2 separate regions of the Homo sapiens genome follow, and region 2 is linked to region 1. A link means that fine-mapping ties the variant in region 1 to the expression of a gene that starts in the linked region. Tissue or cell type: nasal epithelium. Region 1 holds a variant in brackets; the other region holds the start of a gene. All regions are shown on one strand. Distances are from middle to middle.

Region 1 (5,145 bases):
GCCACAGGGGTGAGAGGGTGTTGGGGAAATCTAGGAGGGCTTCCTGCAGGAGGAGTTGAAGGAGGCTTGGGAGGCTCTGTGTGCAAATGGTTCCCATCAGCTCCTCTGGCAAGGTAGAAGGAGTAAGGAGACACCAATCCACCAAGAGATGGTTAAGAGAAAGGCGCAGTGCAGACGCTCCCAGGCTCCTCTGCCCCCCACACATCTTACATCATATTTGCTCAAACACGCCCTTTGTTTTCTTGTTCCCATGCTGCTGGGTAGCTGCTGATAAAGTGTTTTTGTTTTCTGTGAAAGGAGAGCAAGGCGATGAGCTTAAAGTGTGCTTATGTGAGCTGAGGTCAGAGAATGAATCCTTGTTCTCGTCCTCAAAGACGAGTGAAAAGGGCCAACCTTGTAAGCTCTTCTTCCTCCTGGGAATTCAAAATGCAGACAGAAGCCAGTCAGCCTCCTCAGGCCGTTCTTCCACCATTATTGTCATTAATCATGTTAGGTGACTTCCGCCAACCTCTGGAGTATTGCCTTCCAGAAGGAGCATAATTTTCCAGAATGACAGGAATAATATGTTAATCGCCTTCGGCGTGCTCATGATGATCACAATGACAGTAATATCAACTCACCTGTAGGATCATTTACAGCCACCTGTCCTTCCTGGAATAGCAGCAAGAATCAGGAGAAGGGCCCAAAATGCTTTTGAGGAGTTAAGACAGAGTAGGGGCAGCTTCCCAAACCTTAGCTTCTTTTCTTCAAAGAAAACATGATAGGTTCCATTGTGGAACTTGTCCCCCAATGTAACCTAAGTTCTAACGAGCTTGGCTGTTTTGTTTTCTATTCTGCTACAAAAAGAAATGGCAATGTAGGAGTGAGATGAATTGCTAGAAGCCAGCACACTGAAAGTAGCAAGAAGTGACTGCTAGTCACAGAGGAGAGGATTAAAAACTAAAAAATGGCCGAGCATGGTGACTTGCGCCTATAATCCCAGTACTTTAGGAGGCCAAGGCTAGAGGATCGCTTGAGCCCAGGAGTTGGAGACCAGGCCTGGCAACATAGCAAGACCCTGTCTCTACAAAAAATACAAAAATTAGCCAGGTTTTGTGGTGCTGTCCTGTAGTCCCAGCTACTCAGGAAGCTGAGATGAGAGGATTGCTTGAGCCTAGGAGTTTGAGGTTGCAGTGAGTGGTGATTGTGCCCCTGCACTCCAGCCTGGGTAACAGAGCAAGGCCCTGTCTGCAAAATATAAATAAATACATACATACAAAATAAAAACTGAAAGACGACCATTACGAACAACAACGAGTGTGAGACAGCACTCACAATGAGGAGAGGCAGATGGCCCGAGCAGTTTCACTTGTTTCTGTGTGACAAGTCAGGTCAGGAAAGCCTGTTACTGGTTATAACTCTGTGTGAGCAGGAAGTTACTGGAGGTTTAGCACATTCTATTTCGGATGACATCTCTTCAAAGGGACCACCTCTCAAAGCCCCTAGTGAGGAAAAGATCAGGCTTAATTCATTTGGAGAATTAGGTTTTGACATTCTTTTAATCATGCGCCCCAAATTCTGTAAGCATAGGGCATAGAGAGTTGAATCAGTGCCTTGAGCCAGCCACAGGGATAAGGAAGGTGTTCTTGTTAAACTGATGCTGGCAGAGGGCCACGGTCCACCCTCTCATTGACCATGGTTGCTGGACAAGATCAGTGTCTGAGCAACAAGAAATTTGACACTGCACTGGGTGCTGCCCCTCCAGGAAAAGGCACCCACCCGCAGCAAGAAGGTGCTGCCAACAGCCTCATCGTCCCTATAAACAGAAGGTTCTAATCACGATAAGTACGCTTGACCCTTGGCTTCCTTTGGTGGCTGTCTTTTCATTTAGTCTTTGTGTAGCTATTTTAAAACCAGAACCAGTTTACACTAATTTTCTGTGGGGAGAGAAGTGCTGCCCATACCTTTTGATTAGGAGGATTTAAAAACAGGTTTGTTTGTGAGGAAGCAGTTCAGATGGTGGGACATTACAGCCAAGGACAGCCTCCTGCCTGGCTAATGTGGAGGTGGCCGCCCAGCTGGTGATCTCAGAGGCTGATTAGAGCTGCTAACTCTAACCTGGGGTGCTGTCCACCGTCCTCTGAGAACACAGGCTGAGATGGGGCAGGGACATCAACCAAGTTCACAGTCTTCCCCAGATGATCACAGTGCAGGCCTCTGAGCCTAGCAGTGTACGTGTCCCTCGTTTGCCGT[C/T]GCTGCCTGAACCCAGAGCTCAGGGGCCATTTGGTAACATTGCGGCCCAAAGTGGAGGCAGCTTCTACCTGGCTATCCCAGAGAGCTGTAACCAAGGATCCAAAGTCAGTAGGACGAGTTCTGCAGCATTCACACGCCTCTGTCTGCCCGGCACAGGAGGCCTCGCCCCGGAAGCACACGTTGCCATCTCTTCAGTTTTTCCACAACCTCCCTGGAGTGGGTCGCCATAGCAATGGAAGGGCTGCTCCAGGCCTGTGGCCCAGGCCTTGCTCACAAATTTCGCAAGAACGGCGCCACCTTGGTTCCCCAGTCATCCCCCTTCTCCCCGTCCCCCTCCCTTCATAACCTTCTGATATCTTTCGCTTTAAAACCTATCTCAGGTTCTTAAGCAGATGGCTGCCAGGTGGGCCTAGGTGTGTTCACAAACTTAGTTTTGTTCGGAACCTGCAGTGCCGACAAGGAGTGAGGCTGAATGTGAGAAGCAGGTAATTGGCCCGGCTTCCTGGGAACTGGGCAGGGATGGGGCTAGCCCCACCCTAACTGACAGACAGGGCTCCCTGGAGCCAGGGTCCTACCCTCAGGGACACCATGACCAGCTGCACAGGTTGCATGCTGCACAACTCCAGTGGATTCTGTTTACGTAGTTGTTGACTGTGAAATGTGTCTCTGGAGTTCTATAATCCTGTTGCAGTCCTAAAGTGTGTACTGAAATCCAGCTGCTCAGCCATCTAGGAGGTTGAGGTCTGGCCAGGTGAACTCTGAGGAAAAATGGTGCTGAAGGGCAGTCAGGCTGAAAGGATAATGAAAGCCCAGAAACCCATGAAACTTGGGTTGGCCAGAAGGGGAGACCCTTTAGCCAGGGTCACCGAGCCTGGGAGGCGAGGGGGATCTGGGTCAGGCCCTGGGCCTCAGGTCTCCCTGGACCCGTCTATGTCTGTCTTCTCCATGGAGTGAACAGACATGGGGTGCATGGTGCACCCACAAGCACATGGAAGAGGGGAGGCCCTCACTGGGGGGCCGGAATAGGACCCCTGAGAGCCCTATGAGTACCTGCAGCTCCACTCAGTTTCTGGGCATGGCTGGGGACTGGTGGGTACAGGGAGTGACAGATGGGGGAACCCCCGCCCCAAAAGTCTGCCCTCTCCAGGAGTGGCATTCAGAATCCTCCAGTGCGGACCTTAGCCCCGTCCTCATCCAGGTGGGGTGCTGAGACCCCGAGAGAGGCATGAACTTGCCCAGGGTCACACCACAAAGTAGAGCACAGAAGGCCTTGAATTCCCTTTCTCCTGAGCCCTTAGAGCCTGGAGGGAGGCTGGGTGGGGGCAGGGTCAGCCCCTACAACCACTGAGGTCTTGTCCCCTGACTCCCACTGGGTTCTCCTCTGTGGATGGCCCCAGCATTTGCAGGAGACAGAGGTGCCAGTGTCCCCCTGGGGGTGCTGAGATGTGTGCCAGGCCGGAGTCCCTAAGCCCAGGCCGGTCCCCCACGTTCTAATGAATGTTTTTCCTGGTCCCCTCACCACCCCAGCTCACTGACTGACAGGCAGCCACTCTCCAAAGAGTCCCTGAACCATGCTCTCGAGCTCTCAGTGCCAGAGAAGGTGAATAATGCCCAGTGGGATGCTCCAGGTAAGCCAGCTGGGGGTGGTAGGGTGGGGCAGGGCGGGAAACTGTGCTGTGCTGGGTGTGCTGGAGGGGTGGGTGGTGTGGGGGACCACCACACAGAACTGCGGGAAGGAGCAGCTGGGGATCTTGCTGGTTCCACGCTCCCAGGGACCCCACCAAGCCCCTTCCTTCATGGCTGCCATCAGGGCCAGGCGTGATGGAAAGGAATGAGGGATGGGGAGATTTCTTCTTCAAGAAAGCTGGGAAGAAGAGAGGCCAGAGATAGAGAGACAGGTAGGACATCATCTGGGCCCAGGCCTTGGGAACTTGGGGCTCCAGCAAAGGGTTGCTGAGGGACAGGAGAAAGCCCAGATAAGCAATGCCTTGGGATTTTTGGCCTGGTTAACTGGGGCAAGGGGCAGGCAGACGGGTGCAGGCTAGAAAGGTTTGTTTTGGAGGCTTGAAACATTACATGTTATCTTCTTGATCTCCACCATCAAATAATTGTGCCTTAAGGAAGGCAGAGTTATTTACTCTGACTCTGAAGAGTCATCAAAATGATAATAATAATAATAATACATCTTTTGTGCACTTTTATTGGCTGCACAACAACATTGTAGCAACAACAGAAATTTAAAAACAAAAAGAAAACAATAGATACCCAGCACAGAGGGTCACTGCTGCCAGACCAGCTGCCGCTCTCCCAGGCCGAGTGTCTTGGGTGGCTTTGGCAGGGATCTGGCCTGAGCTGTGGGGGTGGGTGTTTCCTCTCATGCCCCCTGCCCTCACCTCAGAGATAAAGGAGAAGGGACTGGGCCAAGAAGAGGACCAACTGGTTTCTGAGAATGGTTTGAAAGACACCGGAGAGAGGCCAGGAACAGGGACAGCTTGGTCCCGGGAGCCTCCCACGTTCATCCTCCCAGGATTCCAAGGCATCTTGCTGACTTGCTGAGCCACCTAGGGCAGGTCCCACCAACTGGCTTAGGCTCAGACACCCCAGACTTTATAATCCCTTCTCTGGGGTGCTCAAAGAGCAGGTGTTGGCACCAGGGGCCTGGGCCACAGCAAAACCGTGGAGCTCAGCAAGTCCTGAGTATGAGTGATGGCACAGGCATTCCTGCAATTCAAGGGGCAGGAAGGGAGCCATTTGTGGGGGAGGCTCCGTGTCCCTTGGAGCCCCAGAAAAGCATCTGGCATCCCGAGGGAGAAACACATAATCCCCAGCCCTGCGGGCCTCAATGGCTTCATCTGAATGGCTGTCGTCTGGCAGCCGTGCAGCAGTAGACACGCAGCATGGGCAGGTTTTAAA
Region 2 (5,145 bases), 25 kb before region 1:
AGAATCTGAGGGATGGGGAAGGAAGGGGAGTTGGGAATGAACAACTTACACATTTTTCCGAACCTTCCCAGGCTTTCATATTGACCAAGGCTTTTGAACTTCAGAGCTGAGCATTCTATGTCTTTTTCTCTGATTATGATTCTCCTCGGGTGGGGAGACACTGACTTGTCACTTACAGTGGTGACTCATTCGATCCCTCCAATCAGCCCATGGGCAAAGGACTCCCCATCACCTTCTCACGTCCAGTTGGAGCTGGTGGCCACTTTGGCCCACCTCAGGCCATCACCCTCATGATTCAAGCAGTTAAAACTGAGGCCAGGAGAGGGCCGAGATCTGCCCAAGATCGTGGTTGAGGGCGTGTCAGTGGGAGATTCAGGCCTTGCAGCTAGACCCCAGACGACCTGCTCAGTGTACCTTCAACAGCATTAGGAAGGCAGCATTTGGGGGCCTGTGGCCTGTGCCCTGAGTTTGTTAGAAGGCAGCCCAGCTTTTTCTCAGTCACCTGCCTTCACCAGACAGCATCACCTGTGGCCCAACTGGACCTATTTCTTCTTGGGGACATCTCATAGGTATCCCCACTAACACCTCCTGTACACAATGTATATGGATTTTAATTGCGTCCCCCAGCAAATTCATGTCTACCCAGAGCCTCAGAATGTGATCTTGTTTGAAAATAGGGTCTCTGCAGATATAGTTAAGATGAGGTTCTTTGGCATCAGGGAAGGCCCTACTCCAATGACTGGTGTCCATGTAAGAAGAGAAAATAGGAACATAGACTGCTATGGTGGGAAAATTCCCAACAAATTTCATATGTTGGAAACTTAACCTCAAAATTCATATGTTGATTGGAAGTTGAGCCCTTGGGAGGTAATTAGGGTTAGGCAAGGTCATCAGGGCGGGGTCCCATGTTGAAACTGGAAACTTTATAAGAGAAGAAAGACCTGAGCTGGCACCACGCTCTTGCCCTCTCACCATGTGATGCCCTCCACGTTATGATGTAGCAAGAAAGCCCTCACCAGATGCTGGCACCTTAATATTGGACTTCCAGCCTCTAGAGCTTTAAGAAATCAATTTCTTTGTGTGTGTGTGTGTGTGTGTGTGTGTGTGTGTGTGTTTTGGTGTTTTTTTAAATTTGTTTGTTTGTTTTATTTTTGAGGCAGGGTCTCACTCTGGTTGCCCAGGCTGGAGTGCAGTGGTGCAATCATGGCTCACTACAGTCTCAACCTCCCAGGCTTGAGTGATCATCCCACCTCAGCCTCCCAAGTGGCTGGGACCACAGGTGCACACCACGGCGTGGCACCCAGCTAATTCTGTTTTATTTTTTGAAGAGACAAAGTCTTACTATGTTGCCCAGGATGGTCTTGAACTCCTACGCTCAAGCAATCCTCCCACCTTGGCTTCCCAAAGTGCTGGGATTAAAGGCATGAGCCTCCGCACCCGACCTATTTTCGTTATGAATTACCCAGTCTGAGGTATTCAGTGATAGCAACAGAAAATGTACTAAGGCATAGACACAGAGGAAAGACAGCCACGTGAGGACAGAGGCAGAGGCTGGAGAGATGCACATGCAAGCCAAGGAACACCCAGGATGGCCAGTGACCCCCAGCAGCTGGGAGAGAAGCAAAGAAAGAGTCTGCCCACAGCCCCCAGAGGGAGTGTGGCCCTGCGCACATCTTCATTTCCAACTTCTGGCCTCCAGAGCCGTGGGAGAATACATTTCTGTTGTTTGAAGCTATCCAGTTTGTGGAACTTTGTTACAGCAGCCCTGGGGAATGAATACATGGTCTTAGAGGGGAGACTTTTGGTATTCAGAAAAAGGCCTTGTCCTGTGTGAATTTCCCATCTCTTTATGGCTGCCTGAAACCCCCCCGCCCCCCTTAACATGCTTCTTTCCTTTAGAAGAAGGGACAGATCCAGGCTTCTATTCATGTGTCCCTGGAAAGTCACATTCCTCGGTTGCCTCTATCATGTCTTCAGTGCAACTGCTTCTATAGACCATGTGGCGTGGTCTCAGTGTTGGAAATGTCTCCTTCCTTCCCCCGGGGTGGGCTCCCTCCTTGGGTCTCCAGCCTCCATGCAGGACCTGGGGGAGGGGGACTGAGTGGGTGAGATCCCTCCCAGGGCAGCATTCGGCAGACCGCAAGTCAAGGTTGCAGAGTGTATGCAGCCAGGGGTAGCAGCCACTTCAGGATCTGGGTCTGGATTTGTGCTGAGAACCACTATGACCTTTTAAAGCCAGTGAGGAGGTTTTCTGGGGGCCCAGAAGCCCTGAGCCCATTGGCCAGACCTCCTGGGAGAAGCGGAGCGGATTTGCATCAAAAAGAACACTGGCTTCATTGAAATTCTCCTCATCTTGAGAGAAACAAAACCACAAAGAAAAGGAAAGTTTTAATTCTGAGAAACTTCACTGAGGAGCAATTTTTTTTGAGCTTCTAAAAATAGAGAGGAAATGAGCCTCTTTGGGTCACTCTAGTTGCCGCCTCCCCTGCCCCATGCCCACCCCCACTGCTCACTCAAGGCTAGCCTCTCTCAGTGGGTGACTGAGCTGTCTTCAGTGGAAGCCCGAGGCAGATGCCACGCAATTCTGGAGCTGGATACGGCTGCCCACACGGGGACCCCAGCATGCTGGACAGCAGAGAGACCCCACAGGAGAGCCGGCAGGACATGATTGTGAGGACCACCCAAGAAAAATTGAAAACCAGGTAAGTCATTGGTTGGGTTTCTGCACACTGCACCTGTGGGCCGAGTTCTAGACTTTGCTCTGCTGTGTGAACTTGGGCAAGCTGCTTCTCTCTCTGAGCCTCAGTTTCTTCACCTGGGAAATGAAGGGAAGGATCTGGGCGATCCGTAAGATGGAAGAACTGGTCATTTGGAGGGCTACTTAGCATGGCTAAGAAAGGCTCATCAAAGAATGAGGCACATCCCAGGGGTATGAGCTGGGGCTGCAGTTGGAGACCAGTTGGATCTCAGTTGGATGGAGGAGGAATTTTTCAGTCAAGAATGTTTCCCTGTCTCCTCAAGGGGGACTTTTGCCTGCGGGGGTCAAAGACAGATAAGTTTTGGTGGGGACCCAGAGGTTCCCGCTCCAGTTTGCTGCGTGACCTTGGCAAGTGCCTTTGCCCTCCGTGGGCTGTAGCTTCCCTGTCTGAATATGAGTGCAGTGGCTGAGGTTTCCCTAAAGCCCTTCCACTGTATATATTCCAGTAATCTGTGATTTAGAGGAAGTGGATTCAACGTATCAGGCATTCACCAATGCCCACCCTGGCCCAGGCCCTGTCCATCCAGGGAGTAGGGGATCCTGAGAAGATGAGACTCAGTCCCAGCCCTGGGATGCCCTGGCCAGAAGGCAGGAAGAAGGCAGGCGCACGCGCACACGCACACACACGGAACTCCAGGACCCCAACATCTGTGATTTGTGTCCAGGAGGGGCGCAGGCGAAGGGGCAGAGAGAAGGAGGTTTCTAACTGGGGCGCCTGAGATGGACCTTGACGGTCAGAGTGGAGCCAAGAGCAGTGGGCAGAGAGAACGACCTAACAAAGCAAGACAGGAAGTTTGGGGATGGGAGAGGTCTGGGTGGCGGAAGCATAGAACTGGGGAGGACAGGGGCTAAATACCAGGGTCCAAGTCCTCTGTAGTAATGGGGAGGAATTGCCAGTGTCTGAGCTACCAAGACTACAGCCCCTGTCCTGATGGAAGGTTATGGGGAAGGAAGATAGAGGGAAATGGGAACAGATGTTAATGCGCCTCAGAGATGCAGAGGCCCCTCCGAGGGCTGGCATCTGGGCCCTGCCCTGGGTCTCCAGAGAACCCTGCTAATCCAAAGTGGACTCCTGTTCTTCCAGAAGCAGGGACTCTTCCCTGCAAAGCCTCCAAGAGCATGAGGGCAAGCCCCTCCCTGGGCATAGGTCAGGTGCACAGAGGGTCAAGGGCCCCTGGAAGAAAGCTGGACTGACTTCCTCACCCAAGGGCAGATTCAGGATCTCCTCTGGGCCCCGGTGTCCTGGCACCTCCCCTCCTCCCTGGGGTCTGTGGGCTCAGAGAGCAGGAAGGCCAGGCGAGATGCTCAGAGGAGCACATCGAAATATGTCCAGAGGCCATGCATGATGGCTCATGCCTGTAATCCCAGCACTTTGGGAGGCTGAGTCGGGTGGATCACCCAAGGTCAGGAGTTCTGAGACCAGCCTGCCCAATGTGATGAAACTCTGTCTCTACTAAAAATACAAACAGCCAGGTGGTGGTACGTGCCTGTAATCCCAGCTACTCAGGAGGCTGAGGCAGGAGAATTGCTTGAACCCGGGAGGTGGAAATTGCAGTGAGTCAAGATCGTGCCACTGCACTCCAGCCTGGGCCACGAGAGCAAAAGTCCTTCTCAAAAAAAAAAAAAAGAAGAAAAAGAAATAAATGTGCCCAGAGCAGGGGTAGACAGGCATGAGGACAGCCAGGGCCAGGGGAGTCTTTGAAAACAAAATCAAGGTCTGCAGGATCTCAGGGTCTTCTGCTCCCTGTGAGTGAGGGGCCAAGTGGGGCTCAGGGCCACAGGAGCCTGTGTCTCAGGCCTGTGGTGAAAAGGGGTGGCAGAGGGTCCTGTGTGCCCTGCAAAGCTCACAGAGGACTGGGCTTGTTTTGCAGACATCACTGAAGGAAAGTAGGCAAACTTGAGGCAGAACCCTAGGCTTGTGCAGAGAAGGACTCCCTCCTGAAAGGGTAAATGGGTCTTGGGACCCCGTAGGGAAAGAGAAAGGCTAAAAACCCAAGAGTTGGAGTGTCAGTTCTACTACTTTCTTGCTGAGTGACTTTGGATACATTGTTTAACCTTTCTGAGCCTCAATAGCATCCTCTGTACAAATAAATATACAACGCCTGAACTTCATTGACATTGCAGAAAAATTGGGTGGATTCCATCAGCTAATGTGTATGAAAATGTTTTCAAAGCATAAGAGTTACCCATCACAGGCATAGTAACTCTCATAGCAACACTCTTAGCAGCAGGCTGGAGGTCACATGCCTTGGGTTCCAGTCCAGCTCTGCTCCTAACCCATTCTGTGACCCTTGGCAAGATACCTTCTCTGAGCCTCAGTTTCCCCATCTGTCAAACAGGGAAGCTAAACCTGCTCTGACATTCTTGCAGAGCAGCTGTGAGAAAAG

The links. PIP is the estimated chance that this variant, and not a neighbour inherited with it, causes the effect.
Region 2: it holds the start of ACSBG1, and the variant in region 1 is fine-mapped to the expression of ACSBG1 in nasal epithelium (TOPMed, PIP 0.98).

The regions. Positions count from the first base shown.
Region 1 is chr15:78,206,717-78,211,861 of GRCh38, reverse strand. It overlaps ACSBG1 (acyl-CoA synthetase bubblegum family member 1), which reads left to right. Exons shown (of 14, transcript NM_015162.5): 2 at 3,760-3,860. Among named protein-coding and RNA genes, the nearest start is that of ACSBG1, 25 kb to the left of the region's middle. RefSeq lists an enhancer at 3,410-3,921. The variant C/T (reference allele first, on the strand shown) is at 2,233.
Region 2 is chr15:78,231,928-78,237,072 of GRCh38, reverse strand. ACSBG1 (acyl-CoA synthetase bubblegum family member 1) reads left to right here and starts at 2,508. Exons shown (of 14, transcript NM_015162.5): 1 at 2,508-2,702. The coding sequence starts at 2,572.